2 linked regions of the Homo sapiens genome follow. The protein of the gene in region 1 interacts with the protein of each later gene in a pairwise test. Each region holds a gene or a part of one and is shown in the gene's direction. Other genes may lie near its edges.

Region 1 (4,231 bases):
GATTACAGGCCTGAGCCACCGCGTCCAGCCTGTATGGAATTTTTTTTTTTTTTTTTTGAGACGGAGTCTCCCTCTGTCGCCCAGGCTGGAGTGCAGTGGCGCGATCTCGGCTCACTGCAAGCTCCGCCTCCCGGGTTCACGCCATTCTCCTGTCTCAGCCTCCCGAGTAGCTGGGACTACAGGCGCCCGCCACCGCGCCCAGCTAATTTTTTGTATTTTTAGTAGAGACGGGGTTTCACCGTGTTAGCCAGGATGGTCTCGATCTCCTGACCTCATGATCCGCCCGCCTTGGCCTCCCAAAGTGCTGGGATTACCGGCGTGAGCCACCGCGCCCGGCTGCCTGTATGGAATTTCTATGAGAAATTATTGCATACTTTGTTGTCGGTTAGACCTGGGGTAAATCCCTGCTGCTGTCATTTATCTGCCGAAGTATTAGACGCATCTGGCTGAGCCTTAATTCATTCATCAAGCATTTATTGAGCTTCTACCATGTTCCAGCCCCGATCCTGGCACGGGGGCCCTGCTGTAAACAAAGCTGTTCTCTGCCCTCAGGAGCTTGCTCTCTGATAGGAGAGACAGGGACTGCAAGCTCAATCCCCACCAGAAGCGCTGTGAAGACAAAACAGGGTGATGTCACAGTGACTGGAGGAGGGGGCACCTTTGAGCAGGGTGGTGGTGGTGGGGCTCTCTGAGGAGGCAATACCATTGGTGTTTAAGAGTCAAATAAATGTTGCTCGTCTAGCTCTTGGTCCAGCACCTGACAGATATTAAGCGCTCAGCAAATCTCATAGTGACCCTAGTTGTCATTTTCATTAGTTTACTGTCCTCGCCACCGGGAGAACATGAGCTGGGGAGGATGCGGGGCAGGCTCGACGTTTCTCCTCTTTGGGCGCACAGCACAGAGCTGGCACACAGCTGATGAACACATGGCACCCGAAACCTCTGCACACAGTAGGGCTTGATAAACCAGCCCACTCTCCATCGGCCTCGCTAGGGAGCATCGTACAGAGCACCCGCCAAATGCTTCCTGGCCTCGGCCCCAGCCCGGCGCCCTGCCCTCGCGTTCCTTGCACACAGTGGGCGCTTAACGCTGCCGGCTCAAGAAATGCCCATTTCTGGGCCCTGCCTCGGCCCATTGCATGGGCCCGTGAACCGAAGCCTAGCTGGGCGGCGACGCGCCGCGAGCTCCCAGTGGGCTGGAGCCGGGAGCCCTGCCGGGGCTGAGCTGGGAAGGCGGGCACGCGCCTCCGCCCCAAGCTTCCGCGCCCAGCTGCGTCCAGCTGCGTCCCAGCCTCCGGCTCGCGGCGGTTGGCTGCGGCTCAGCGACGTCCGATTGGCCTGCGCGGCTCCGGCGCGAGCCCCGATTGGCTGTGACGCGCGGCCGGGCGAGGACCCCGCCCGCGCCGCCGCCGCGCCCGGCGCTGGGCGGTCATTGGGCGGCGTGATCTCGCCGCGGTTCCGCGGCCCTGCCGCCGCCGCCGCCAGCAGAGCGCACCGGGCCGATCGGGCGAGTGGCCATGGCGGGCGCCGAGAACTGGCCGGGCCAGCAGCTGGAGCTGGACGAGGACGAGGCGTCTTGTTGCCGCTGGGGCGCGCAGCACGCCGGGGCCCGCGAGCTGGCTGCGCTCTACTCGCCAGGTAAGACCTCTGGGCCCCCCTCCAGGCCTGCGGTCACCAGCCCCGGCTGCGGACAGCGACCCCAGACTGGAGTCCCAACCTCGGGCCCAGATGCGGAACTCCAGCCCGGGTGTCTAACTTGCAAATAGCAAGTTCGGGGACCCCACCCCAGTGTCCCTTCCGAACCCAAGCCAGAACCTTGGCCCCGGGGTTTCCTGGCTGCAGAGACACTCCCCAGATCAAGAAATTACCATGAGCTCCCTGGGCGACAAACGGAGCTCCCATCGGACCCGCAGATACGGAATCCTAGCCCCGGGGCATTCTCGGTTGTGAAGAGTGCTCCTAGACTTAGAACCCCACCCCCTCATCCCCCCAGGACCCGGTCCAAGCCCAAAGCTGCCCTTCAGCTGTAAGCACTGCCCTCAGGCCCCTAAAAGTCACACCTCATCCTGGGTTCCCCAGATCTGGAATCTACATCCTAGTACCTCCTCTGTGCCCTAGCCCAGGCCCTGGGCTGCAAACAATGACCTCACCTCCCTAACCTGGGAATGTCAGCCCCTCTGCCCAGGGAACCCTAACTCAGGGGCTTCCAGCTGCACGGTACCCCCCACACCCTTCCCCCAAAACCCCATCCTAGTGATAGCTTCAGTGGCTACAGACCGATATCCTCTCCCCAACCCTCCAGTGGTGAGCATCAGTCCTTGCCCCATATTCCTGGATCCCAGGCAGTGAGGGGACTGAATGTACCCCACTGTAAGCTCCCCTGTACATAAGCCCCAACTCTAGCTCTTGCCCCTCCCTCACATCCATGTATTGGCCCCTTCCTTAGGACTTGGGACTGGAACCCCCATATTCCCCAGACCAGATCATAAGTTGGAGTTCACCTCTCCCTCTCTGTCCCTTTCCCTCAGGCCACGGTTTCTCCCTAGCTTCTTCCTGCTTTGCTCACTGTATATGCTCCAGCAAGCACCCCCCCTACACCCACTTTTGTGACTCCTACGTGAGCCCTAGGAATTTTACTGTTTGGCCTCAGGAGGGCCCTATATCCCCAGGAGTTAAGGAAGTGCCTTTGAGAACTCCTGGTTCAGGTGACTGGGAGGCACCTCTACCTGGGTGTCACCATGGAATGAAGCTTTGTTTGTCAAATATCCTGACATCCTTCCTTTTTCTGTGGGGCAGCCACCAAGCACCACATGCAGCCCTTGCCTGGAGTGGGCCTGGGGTCACTAGCACCTTAGCTTTCTGCCCTCACTGGCCTGGGTTCCATGCCGTCTCTTCCTTAAAAGGCGGCATGGCCACGGACCATTTGCATTTCCTCACTGGGTCCTAGACCACTCCATTCTCTGTATGTGATTTTTCACACCTGACTTGGGCACCTGGTCCATGCCGCTATGGTTTCTTCAGGCCTATACCCAAGACACCCAGCCTATGGACTTAAAACCTCCTGCTCTCCTGGGGGTAGGCCAGGGTTAACATCCTGACTCTGTTATTCAGCTGTATGACCTGGTCCAAGCCACTTTCCGTCTCTGTTTCCCCTTGGTTTCCTTGCAAGTTAAAGTTTATCTGCCCCTTCGTGTTAGGAAGTGGAAATGAGATCGTCCACTGGCATTCAGTAGGCACTCCCTGTTGTTGTGTGGGTTTTTTTGTTGTTTTTTGTTTTGTTTTGTTTTATTTGTTTTGAGATGGAGTCTCACTCTGTTGCCCAGGCTGGAGTGCAGTGGCGTGATCTCGGCTCACTGCAAGCTCCTCCTCCCGGGTTCACGCCATTCTCCTGCCTCAGCCTCCTGAGTAGCTGGGACTACAGGCGCCCGCCACCATGCCCGGCTAATTTTCTGTATTTTCAGTAGAGATGGGGTTTCACTGTGTTAGCCAGGGTGGTCTCGATCTCTTGACCTTGTGATCCGCCCACCTCGGCCTCCCACAGTGCTGGGATTACAGGCGTGAGCCACTGTGCCTGGCGCCTCCCTGTTGTTAACAGTAGTCTGACCTTTGCTGTGGGGGATCCGCCTCACCTCTCTGGTCCTCAAACTCCCCACCTGGGAATTGGGGATAAGGATTCAAGGGCCTCCCTCTTTAGTGTCCAGCTCTGCCTGCTCCTGTGAACCCTACCTACTTTCAGACAGCCCAAATCATTCCCAGGCATTCTGAGCCTCCCCAGGGATTGCTGTTTCCCCACTCCACCACGATCAATTGCATATTTGTCCATTTCTGGTTTCCCCAAGTGCCCTTCACTCTCTGAAGAACAGCCATGCCTGAATCAGAGTCTGCAGACAGCCTGGTGCCCCAAATCTGCAATCAAGGCCCTTTATCTCCTCCAGACCTGGAGGTAGGGGAGGAGACTTGCCAAACTGGTTTCTCCAACTTCCTTTCCACTGGCCTCTCTGCTTCTATCTGCTCACTGTGTGATCTTGGGGAAGTATTTGACCTCTCTGGGCCTGAAAAAGTGAGAGACCAGGCTCAGTGCATATTGAACACCTATGTTCTAGTCCATGTTCTAGGCTCTGGGGGCAGAATGGTGAACAAGACAGAAAAAAATGGAGCTGGCCGGGCGCGGTGGCTCACACCCGTAATCCTAGCACTTTGGGAGGCCGAGGTGGGTGGATCACTTGAGGTC
Region 2 (3,500 bases), on another chromosome or scaffold:
AGATAACTAGATGACAGAAGAAAGACCTAAACAACTATTGTCAGCTCTTAGATTTCTTTTGCCTTGGATCTAGTAGTGATACCTAATATAAGGCTTATTCAGCCATTTATTACCCAAAACTTGATTAATGGAAATTTAGAGAGATCTATTGACTATCTTCCAAGACAAACATTGACAAATATAATAAGAAAGCAAAGAATATGTACATCTCAATTAGACACCAAACATGGGTTAATGTCTGCAGCAAGGAAGATCAGGGAGTAAATTCATTCATTAGACTCCAATTTGCATTCCTGCTATACATTTTTAAAACTTGTTTGTCTTGTCTAATGTCCTTTCTTTCCATTACAGTCATTAGTACCTATCAGCATTAATATGCTTTAATTTGCTAATTATGTTACATGTTCACAGTCTTATTTCAAAGCTGTTACCGATAAGCTGTCCTTACAGAGGCTGTATGATAGAAGAAAAAGCCAAAGACTTGGCTCCAAACAACCTTGGGCTTAAATGCCAGGATTCCATTCAAACTCTATAAACTTGGATAAGCAGAACTCTGTGAGCCTTAGTTTTGTCATCTGTTAAATGAGATAAATAGCAATATCCAAGATCAGTGTAAGGATCCATGAAATACCTCATGAAAAATGCCTAAATTGGAGTGGTGATTAACAACTGAGTATTAACTGGCTCCTTCTCAATTTTTAAAAATATTTTGGCAACTGTGAGGGAACTACAGGTTTTTCCTTAAAAATACACATTCACTGCTTTAACAAAGATTACTTGTTGAACAAATGTGTATATGACGTGGTAACTTCTTTAAGGAGTTTTTTTAAATAATTAGAGCATTTGGAAATACATTCTGAGCATTTGGGGTTGTCACATTAACACCACTGTCAGTTAGCCTCCAAGAATAAGGAATGAAGTTCCCTTGTTGCAAATACCAATAACACCCTAATTGAGAAACATGGAGTGACACATAAGCCAATAGGAGTGTATTTAAGTAGTGTGTCTTGTAATTCAACCCTGATTATAGATGGGATGTGAGTTCAGAGAAAAGAAGGAAAATTACTGGGCTACAGGGATCAGAGAAGTCTTTATGGAAGAGGTGGCATTTGAGATGGCTCTGGAAGGATGAAGATAATTTGAAAAGTAAAAGTCAAGAAGGACAGTATTCCATGCATAAAGGACAAGACATAGTGGCTGGGATGAGAATGGCATGGGTTTGGAGAGGGGCCAAGAAGGGGCACATAGAGTGGGACTTATGTGATGGAGCGACTTAGTTGTCTGAAATGAATGATGTATTTGTGGGAGTGGTAAAAAGTAAGACTGGATTGATGTGTGAAAGTGAAAGAAGAGAAAGAGACAGAGAGACAGAGAAGGCTGTGGAGGATCCAGACAATCAGGCAAAGAAAGGAATTTGCACTTAATGCAGAGGCAACAAAGAATGTGAGTGATGAGCAGGGAGCAGCAGTGATGAAATGGTGTTCAGGGATGAGAAATCTGACAGCCGTCGGGGAGGCAGATTTGAAGAGAGAGAGATTGGTGGAAGAAAGACCACTTTGGAAGTTGTTAGTAGTGATACAGGCATGAGGCAGTAAGATCCTCTATCAGGAGAATTTAAAGTAAAGAGTATACCAGAAAGATGTTTCAAAGAAAGAAAGGGTGTGATGTGAACATATTAGACATAAAGGATGAAGAAAGGACAATTCAATATGGCCCCAGGATTCTGAGTCTGGAAGAATGTGGTGCCCCGATCAGTGGGAATGAGAACAGTGAAGGGGAGCTAGTTTTGTACAAAATTAGTGACCTGCTTTTTTCTTCTTCCAAAATAGTTATTTTCTTAAACCTTTGAAAGGTTCAAACCTCCACCTTCTATAGCCAAAGGACTTTAATTTTAATATTTTCTCTGCATTTTTTTCTTTTAGGAAAGTTTAACTTACAGTTTAATAAATACTCATCTGGGTCAGGTCTTTCTAATCAAGTTCTTAAATTCAAATGTGCATAGCCTAAAAGAGAAACATTTAAAAAGGAAGTAAAAGAGCATTTACATGTAAGGGACAAATGTGAGTTTCTTCCTTATTTGTTTTTAACTTTCATTCTCTATGCAGAAAATCCAGGCCAAAATCTTTGTTTTCTTTTATTCAGAGATTCAATTATATTTTAGGAAAACATCTAAATGTTGGGTAAATTCCGTAAGATAAATTACCCAAACTTATGGCTTGGAATTGTGTAAACTAAACGGATTATCTGACTAAATACATTGCTTTTATAGTTTGTTATTTTAATATAAAGGAGACATTGTTTAAATTATCATATTTGTCTCATTTCAGCTCTATCTACACAATGCCTCAAGAGTCCCTCAGTTCAGTCAATTCAGGGGTTCAACATTATGTAGATACAATATCTCTATCATTGACTGTGTATTTCTATGTAATTGATTGGATTTTTGGTATTTTGAAAGCACAGAAACACCTGAACATCTTAGTAAAATGTAATATCAATAAATACATTCAATTCAAATATGTACTTTCTACAGGATGCAGAAATATGCAGAATATTTTATAGATTTATAAAACAGGCTACCAGTTTTATTATCAATGGAGTTGCTTCAATAATTTTTTTCTTAATTCTTACACAATAACAAGTAGAGAAACCATGTAACATAGTCTTAATAGAAGCTCTAAGAGTAATGGCAGAATTTTTACTATGGAATTCACTTGACTCATCAAGCCTTAAAAATATCGGTCTTTGTTTCCATGAAACTATTAAACATCTAGAAGGAATATTGGTAGCCCAAGAAACAGAAACAACTTTCCTTTTTATTTATTATTTATTTATTTATTTTTATTTTATTTATTTATTTATTTATTTTTGAGATAGAGTCTCCCTCTGTAGCCCAGGCTGGAATGCAGTGGCAGTATCTCAGCTCACTGCAACCTCTGCCCCCAGGATTCTAGAGATTCTTCTGCCTCAGCCCCCTGAGTAGCTGGGATTACAGGTGTGCGCCAACACACCTGGCTAATTTTTTTCTATTTTTAGTAGAGACAGGGTTTCACCATGTTGGCCAGACTGGTCTTGAACTCCTGACCTCAGGTGATACGCTAGTCTCGGCCTTCCAAAGTACTGGGATTACAGGCTTGAGCCACCGCACCCGGCACAACTTTCCTTTTTAAAGTAATGCACGCCTTTTGCTGTTATTGGTGATAATGACAATGATGCTATAAAAGCAGTCATGTGTATTATGGAAAATATAGAAAACTAGGAATAGGCAAAAGCCATCTCTTACCTCCTGACCCCACCTCTCAAAGACCAAAATCATCATCATTTTGTTATACCGCTTTTCTTATGTTTTCACTGGATCTTTTTTTTTTTTAAACACAATTATAGTCAAATGTATATGTAGTTTTGGCTTCCTGGTTTTCCACATACAATTTTGGAAATAATATTCTCAAAGAGAAAGCACAAGGCAAAGCAAAAGAAAGTGATCAGGATTAAGTTTGTTT

The links. The genes of interacting proteins can lie anywhere in the genome.
Region 2: the proteins of PEDS1-UBE2V1 (region 1) and TRHR interact in a two-hybrid assay, tested with the Homo sapiens proteins (one large-scale study listed by BioGRID).

Annotation. Positions count from the first base shown.
Region 1 is NC_000020.11:50,150,924-50,155,154, reverse strand, and holds the start of PEDS1-UBE2V1 (TMEM189-UBE2V1 fusion protein), read left to right. Parts: upstream 1-1,431; 5' UTR 1,432-1,517; coding exon 1,518-1,638; intron 1,639-3,839; exon of another isoform or gene 3,840-3,943; intron 3,944-4,231. Other genes in the region: PEDS1 (plasmanylethanolamine desaturase 1), read left to right, coding at 1,518-1,638.
Region 2 is NC_000008.11:109,089,585-109,093,084, forward strand, and holds part of TRHR (thyrotropin-releasing hormone receptor), read left to right. Parts: intron 1-3,500. UniProt on the Homo sapiens protein: Receptor for thyrotropin-releasing hormone (TRH). Upon ligand binding, this G-protein-coupled receptor triggers activation of the phosphatidylinositol (IP3)-calcium-protein kinase C (PKC) pathway.